2 separate regions of the Homo sapiens genome follow, and region 2 is linked to region 1. Evidence: fine-mapped expression QTL. Tissue or cell type: whole blood. Region 1 holds a variant in brackets; the other region holds the start of a gene. All regions are shown on one strand. Distances are from middle to middle.

Region 1 (2,854 bases):
CTTGAGCCACCACCCCTGGCCTATATTGTTAATCTTTATATTAATTCTGCTTGCTGTTTTTCATTTGGTGTTCTTGCTAAGCCGTAATGTTTGAAAAACTTTGTTGAGATGTACAAACTCTCATTCACTGAGCTAAGGAGCATTCTTGGAAATATATCATTGAATAATGTATTACATTTGGGCTATAATGCACATTATTTTATCATGTAAAAAAAGACCTTATAATTCAATTGAAGTTCAAAATATGTTACACTTTCATTTTGTTTCAGTCTACCATTGGAATAAACCAGTTTATAAAATTTTTTATTGAGATATAACTTACATACCATAAAGTTCACCCACTCAAAGTGTGCAATTCAATGCTTTTTAATGTAGTCACAAGGTTTTGCAACCATCACCACAATCTAAGTTTAGGACGTTTTAATCAGCCGCATAAGAAACCCTGTAACTATTGACAGTCACTTTCCAATCCTCCCCACCCCCTGGCTCCTATAATCATTAATCTACTTTCTGTCTCTATAGATTTGCCTACTCTGCATATTTCATACACAAGGAATCCAATACAATGGTCAACACATAGTTTTTGACATGAAAAACGATCTGAGCTGTGTCATCTTAGAATCGTGTAATAGGAGCATACTACTTGCCAAATAAGAACAAATCCAGACTTAAGTAAGGAGAGGCTTTATTCAGTAGAACTATTTCAATAGAGAGAACATGTTGATTTCAGAAACCTGAAAGACTGGGCTGGGTGTGGTGGCTCATGCACATAATCCCATCACTTTGAGAGGCTGAGGCAGGAGGATCCCTTTAGGCCAGGAGTTCAAGACCAGCCTGGGCAACATAGTGAGAGCAGCATTCTGAGACTGTTCCAATGGCAATGATAGAACTGGTTAATTTTTTTTCCATTTTATATTGTTAATCTATATATTAAAGATTCTACAAAAAAATAAAAAATTAGCTGGGTAGGTTGGTGGACGCCTGTAGTCCCAGCTACTCAAGGGGCTAAGGTGGGAGGAGTGCTTGAACCCAGGAGGTCGAGGCTCCAGTGAGCTATGTTGGTGCCACTACACCAGAGCCTGAGTGACAAAAGTGAGATCCCATCTCTAAAAGATGGGGAAAAATGTGCAAAAGTTTCAAAATCCAACAGAAAAGTCTTAGCAGCAACTTTTAATGTTGGGCAAGCACAAGGGCATGATCACTGGGGATTGACAGGAAACACGTCTG[G/T]CAGTGGACAGCTGGACTCTCAAGATAAGCTGCAACAGAGGCATGTTCTGCATTTTAGGGCTTGCCCAGGACTGGGGACAAGCCAGAGTTCAGGAACCTGTGGGAGGAGAGAGGCCTGATGGAAGTGTGGTCAAGACAATGAAGAGGGTAGGGAATGGGCAATTATGAATTCTTGGTCATGGTAATTAACTCTAACGGACTCCCAAGCTTCCCTGCCTATGGTGCTGGGTGATAAAGCCTCCTTCCCACTGAAACATACTGCCACCTTCCAAAACTTTCAGATATGAAGAACAAATCTAGTAGGTAAGAATATAAAGCAGAAGGCAAGCTAAAGGGAAGAAAGGATCATGAAAAGAAGGGATTGTACAAATCTAGTTGGCAGGGAGGTGACTGGAAAGCTTAATAGGATGAAAGTGGGCATCATTATTTTTTATCAAGCTATTATGGCTTACTTAATGTGAGTTTTACTAGTTTAAATGGTTAGTTTCTTGTCAGAGAACTTCATGTAACAGTTTGATTCTAAATGCTGTGTTTGGGTTTCTAATACATTTCTCCTTCTATTTCCCTTAAATCACTCAAAAAGCCAAAAGTCTTTTAGCTTTCCTTAAGACAGTCTATAAGCCACGATGAGAAAGTCACTTATTCTTGTTCTGAGCTCCAAAATTCATTATAAAATCCATTCACTTTTGGTTGGATTCCTACCTAGAGATCAGATTTAAGATTATAAAAATAATTGTGTTGCTGTAAATAGGTTTCTTCCCTACAGACTTTTCTATTCCTATTTTCTTTTTATTTAAAAGATAATTTACTCTTGCGTTTTTGTCAGTTTCCTTTTTCTTGTTTTATTTCTGCTTTACTTGTTATTTCAAAATAAAGAATTGAAGGATTGTATTTTTTTTTTAAGGCAACTGAATTTAGATGACAGATACTTGTTCTAATGGAGTCACTCTAACCAGCCTATAAATTCTAATCCAGTCATTTAAAAGAAAATTCTTTCCATGGGAAAAATTGCTTTTAAATGGAACTCCAGTGCCCCTGCGTGCCTAATGAGTTATTTGGAGCAACATCGCTGCAGTTGTCAGGCCCAGGTTGTTCATCAGTAGCCCGAGATGCTAGTAGCTGAGCAGTGTCGCACCCTAGGGAGTTATCAGGGAAAGCGTAGGTGTTCGGGGTGTCTGGGATCCAGAGATGAGTCAGTCGCTGTGGGAGTTTCTTTGGCAGGTAATTTTATTTTCCCCATGGCTGGAGATAATTACTGTGCTAAAGTTCTGTGCAAATATGGTATTAAAAGGCTATGAAAATCAGGGTAAGCAGCCTTTCTTTCATTCCAAGTAAAAGCCAGTTGTGGGGAGGGGATAGAGTGGTATGACAGTCCAAAGAATCTTTTTAAAAAACATATTACTTACTATAGATTAACCCAATTTCTATTCCGTGAAGCTGAACATTATTTGCTTTTTGTTACAGTTAATTGTGTGAGGAACACGCCGGCCTTTTTAGCCGAAAGACTGCATCGAGCCTTGAAGGTTGGTCTGGAAAGTTCATGTGCATTCTTAGCGTCCCTTAATTCCCTTGGGAAAGTATGCAAATAGTAGAACAAATATTTAAAAATTAGTTATTTTAATGTAAT
Region 2 (2,658 bases), 49 kb before region 1:
AAGACTGTAATCTCTTCAACTCACACTCAAGCAGCTCCAGCCATGCTTATCCTCTAAAAATCCTCTGTGCTCCACCTGTTCACCCTACCTCCTCTCAACTCCTAGAAACCAGTGATTTTTTTTACTGTCTCCGTAGTGTTGCCTTTTCTGGAATGTCATATAGTTGGAATCATAGTGTGTAGCATTTTCAAATGGGCTTCTTTCTCTTAATAATATGCATTTAAGTTTCTTCCATGTGTTTTTATAGCTTGATAGCTAATTTCTTTTCAGTGCTGAATAAAATTCTATTGTATAGATGTATCACAGTTTATTTATCCATTCACCTACGAATTACATCTTGGTTGCTTCCGACTTTTGATACTTAGGAGTAAAGCTACTATAAACATCCATGTGCAGGTGTTTGTGGAGGTAAGTTTTCAAATCCTTCGGGTGAATACATAAGGGGCCCAGTGATGACTGAGTGCAAGCAATACTTTTTACTTACGTGGTCTCGGATAAATCACTTCACTTTTCTAAGCCTCAGTTTTCTCTTCTGCAAATTGTGATAAAAATAGCACCTCCTAGAGTTCCCTTGAAGATAAAAGAGGTAAGGTATTCAAGCACTTCAATGCCTGATACTCAATACATGGTAACTTTTTCTACATCCTTCAGCACACAACTGCTCATAATTCCCTCATACGAGTAGGGCTTTAACCTTTTAGCCTCGATGATTTGTTTTGCTCTTCCAAATGCCTAGAATGCCCTTCCAGGTTACCGTCTCCCTGAGCCTTTGGTTGGAATCCTCATACCAGAGGGTCAACACGTTTAGTAGAGGAATTACTGAAATAGTTGGGTTCCAAACACTAGCTCTGGCATTTACCTTCTGTGTAAATTGGCTGAAGTTACCCAACGTCTCTGTATCTCAATTTCCTCATCTATAAAATGGGGATAATAGTATCTACCTCATAGAGTTGTTGTCGGAGCCATTTTAATGGCAAAAACCGCAATTACTTTTGCACCAACCTAATAAATCCGCGCATATTCTTAAAGAAGTTAGAACAGTGCCTGGTACAAAGTAAATGCCAGATCAATGTTATTAATGTTAGGTGTCCGCCACCTATGCCACGCAGTGAGTTCCTTAGGTATAGGGACAGTCTAATCTCCGAATCCACACTGCCTAGAACAAAATAAGCATTGCAGTACATTTGAGAAAGTAAAGGTGTAGTGGAAACCGAGAGCGAAATGAGGGCGTAGGGAGAAAAGGGTGGGGAAGCTTAGAGACCGGTGAGGGAGCAGAGCTGGGGCGCCTGTGTACAGGGATAGAGCCCGGCGGCAGCAGGGCGCGGCTTCCCTTTCCCGGGGCCTGGGGCCGCAATCAGGTGGAGTCGAGAGGCCGGAGGAGGGGCAGGAGGAAGGGGTGCGGTCGCGATCCGGACCCGGAGCCAGCGCGGAGCACCTGCGCCCGCGGCTGACACCTTCGCTCGCAGTTTGTTCGCAGTTTACTCGCACACCAGTTTCCCCCACCGCGCTTTGGGTAAGTTCAGCCTCCCGGCGCGTCCCCGCGAGCCTCGCCCACAGCCGCCTGCTGACGGGTGGCTTGGGGAGGTCGCGGCGCCTCGCCCAGTTCCCCCGCGAGTGCAGCTCGACCCTGGGCAGGGCTGGCGGCTGGCGCCCGCGCCCGGCCCCAACCCAGCTGCGTGGGTGGGGAGCTGGAGGGACCTCAGTCCTGCATTTCAGAGTCGAGGAGACTGGGCCCACGGGGGGGAAAGTGCCGTGCCATGGGTGGGTCACCCAGGTCTTGGTGGGGCCCAAGCTGATACTCAGCTGTCCTCGCTCCCTGAAAGCTTCGCTTATTACAGCTAGCAGCGTAAGGGATCCACTTAGCCATCTCGGCCTCCCCAGTCCTAAAGGTCTAGGGGACAGAAAAAAGCTGGGAGTCGGAAGGTTCCTCGGGTCCCCGGCATGGCAGACGGGGCTGGCTCAGAGGTCTGCTCTGTGGACTTGGAATCGCACCCATCCTGTGAGCATCTTCTCCCCCTCACATAGGCAATTTATTTTATTTTACTTATTTTTTTTAGAAGGTAGAAAACAGTGGATTTGCATATTGAGGGTTGGAAGTTCAAGAAGTTTGCTTTTTCCTGAAAAGACTAACCGTTTTCTTTGCAACAGAATCCTATTGACTAGATATGAATCATTCCCTTGGTATTTGAGTCACCAGGTGGAAGATTTGGATACTTGATTGCAGATGACCATATATAGGAAAGTATGCAGGTGCTGGGAGGTTCTGGGTCGCTGGAGGCCCCTCTGGCTACTGATACGAAATTGCATAGCCCAGGCCGAATTCTTTCCAAGGATTTGTGTTCAGCACTGACAGCAAGACCCTGCCCTCCGGGAAAGATACATTTACTATGTTCACCAACATCATTTTTTAAAATGTAACTAATTAAAACGTTACTCCATGAAGATACCACCTTTGGTTTTCACGAAGACGGAAAACTTCAGACTGACCAGAAAGGGAATTTTTAAATGTAAAGAAAACCAGAATCTTGTTCCCAGAACTCTGTGGTTGTGTAGAGAAACCTGTTTAGAAATAACCGTAGAGGAGGAAGTAAAAGGAAATGATGTAATCCCTTTCAGGAAAGGATATATTGAAATTCTGTTTAAGTCATTTGGCCTTCG

The links. PIP is the estimated chance that this variant, and not a neighbour inherited with it, causes the effect.
Region 2: it holds the start of ANXA3, and the variant in region 1 is fine-mapped to the expression of ANXA3 in whole blood (INTERVAL, PIP 0.97).

What each region holds. Positions count from the first base shown.
Region 1 is chr4:78,598,819-78,601,672 of GRCh38, forward strand. ANXA3 (annexin A3) reads left to right here. Exons shown (of 13, transcript NM_005139.3): 11 at 2,692-2,750. Among named protein-coding and RNA genes, the nearest start is that of LINC01094, 46 kb to the right of the region's middle. The variant G/T (reference allele first, on the strand shown) is at 1,228.
Region 2 is chr4:78,550,347-78,553,004 of GRCh38, forward strand. ANXA3 (annexin A3) reads left to right here and starts at 1,424. Exons shown (of 13, transcript NM_005139.3): 1 at 1,424-1,513. RefSeq lists enhancers at 1,789-2,540, 1,844-2,658.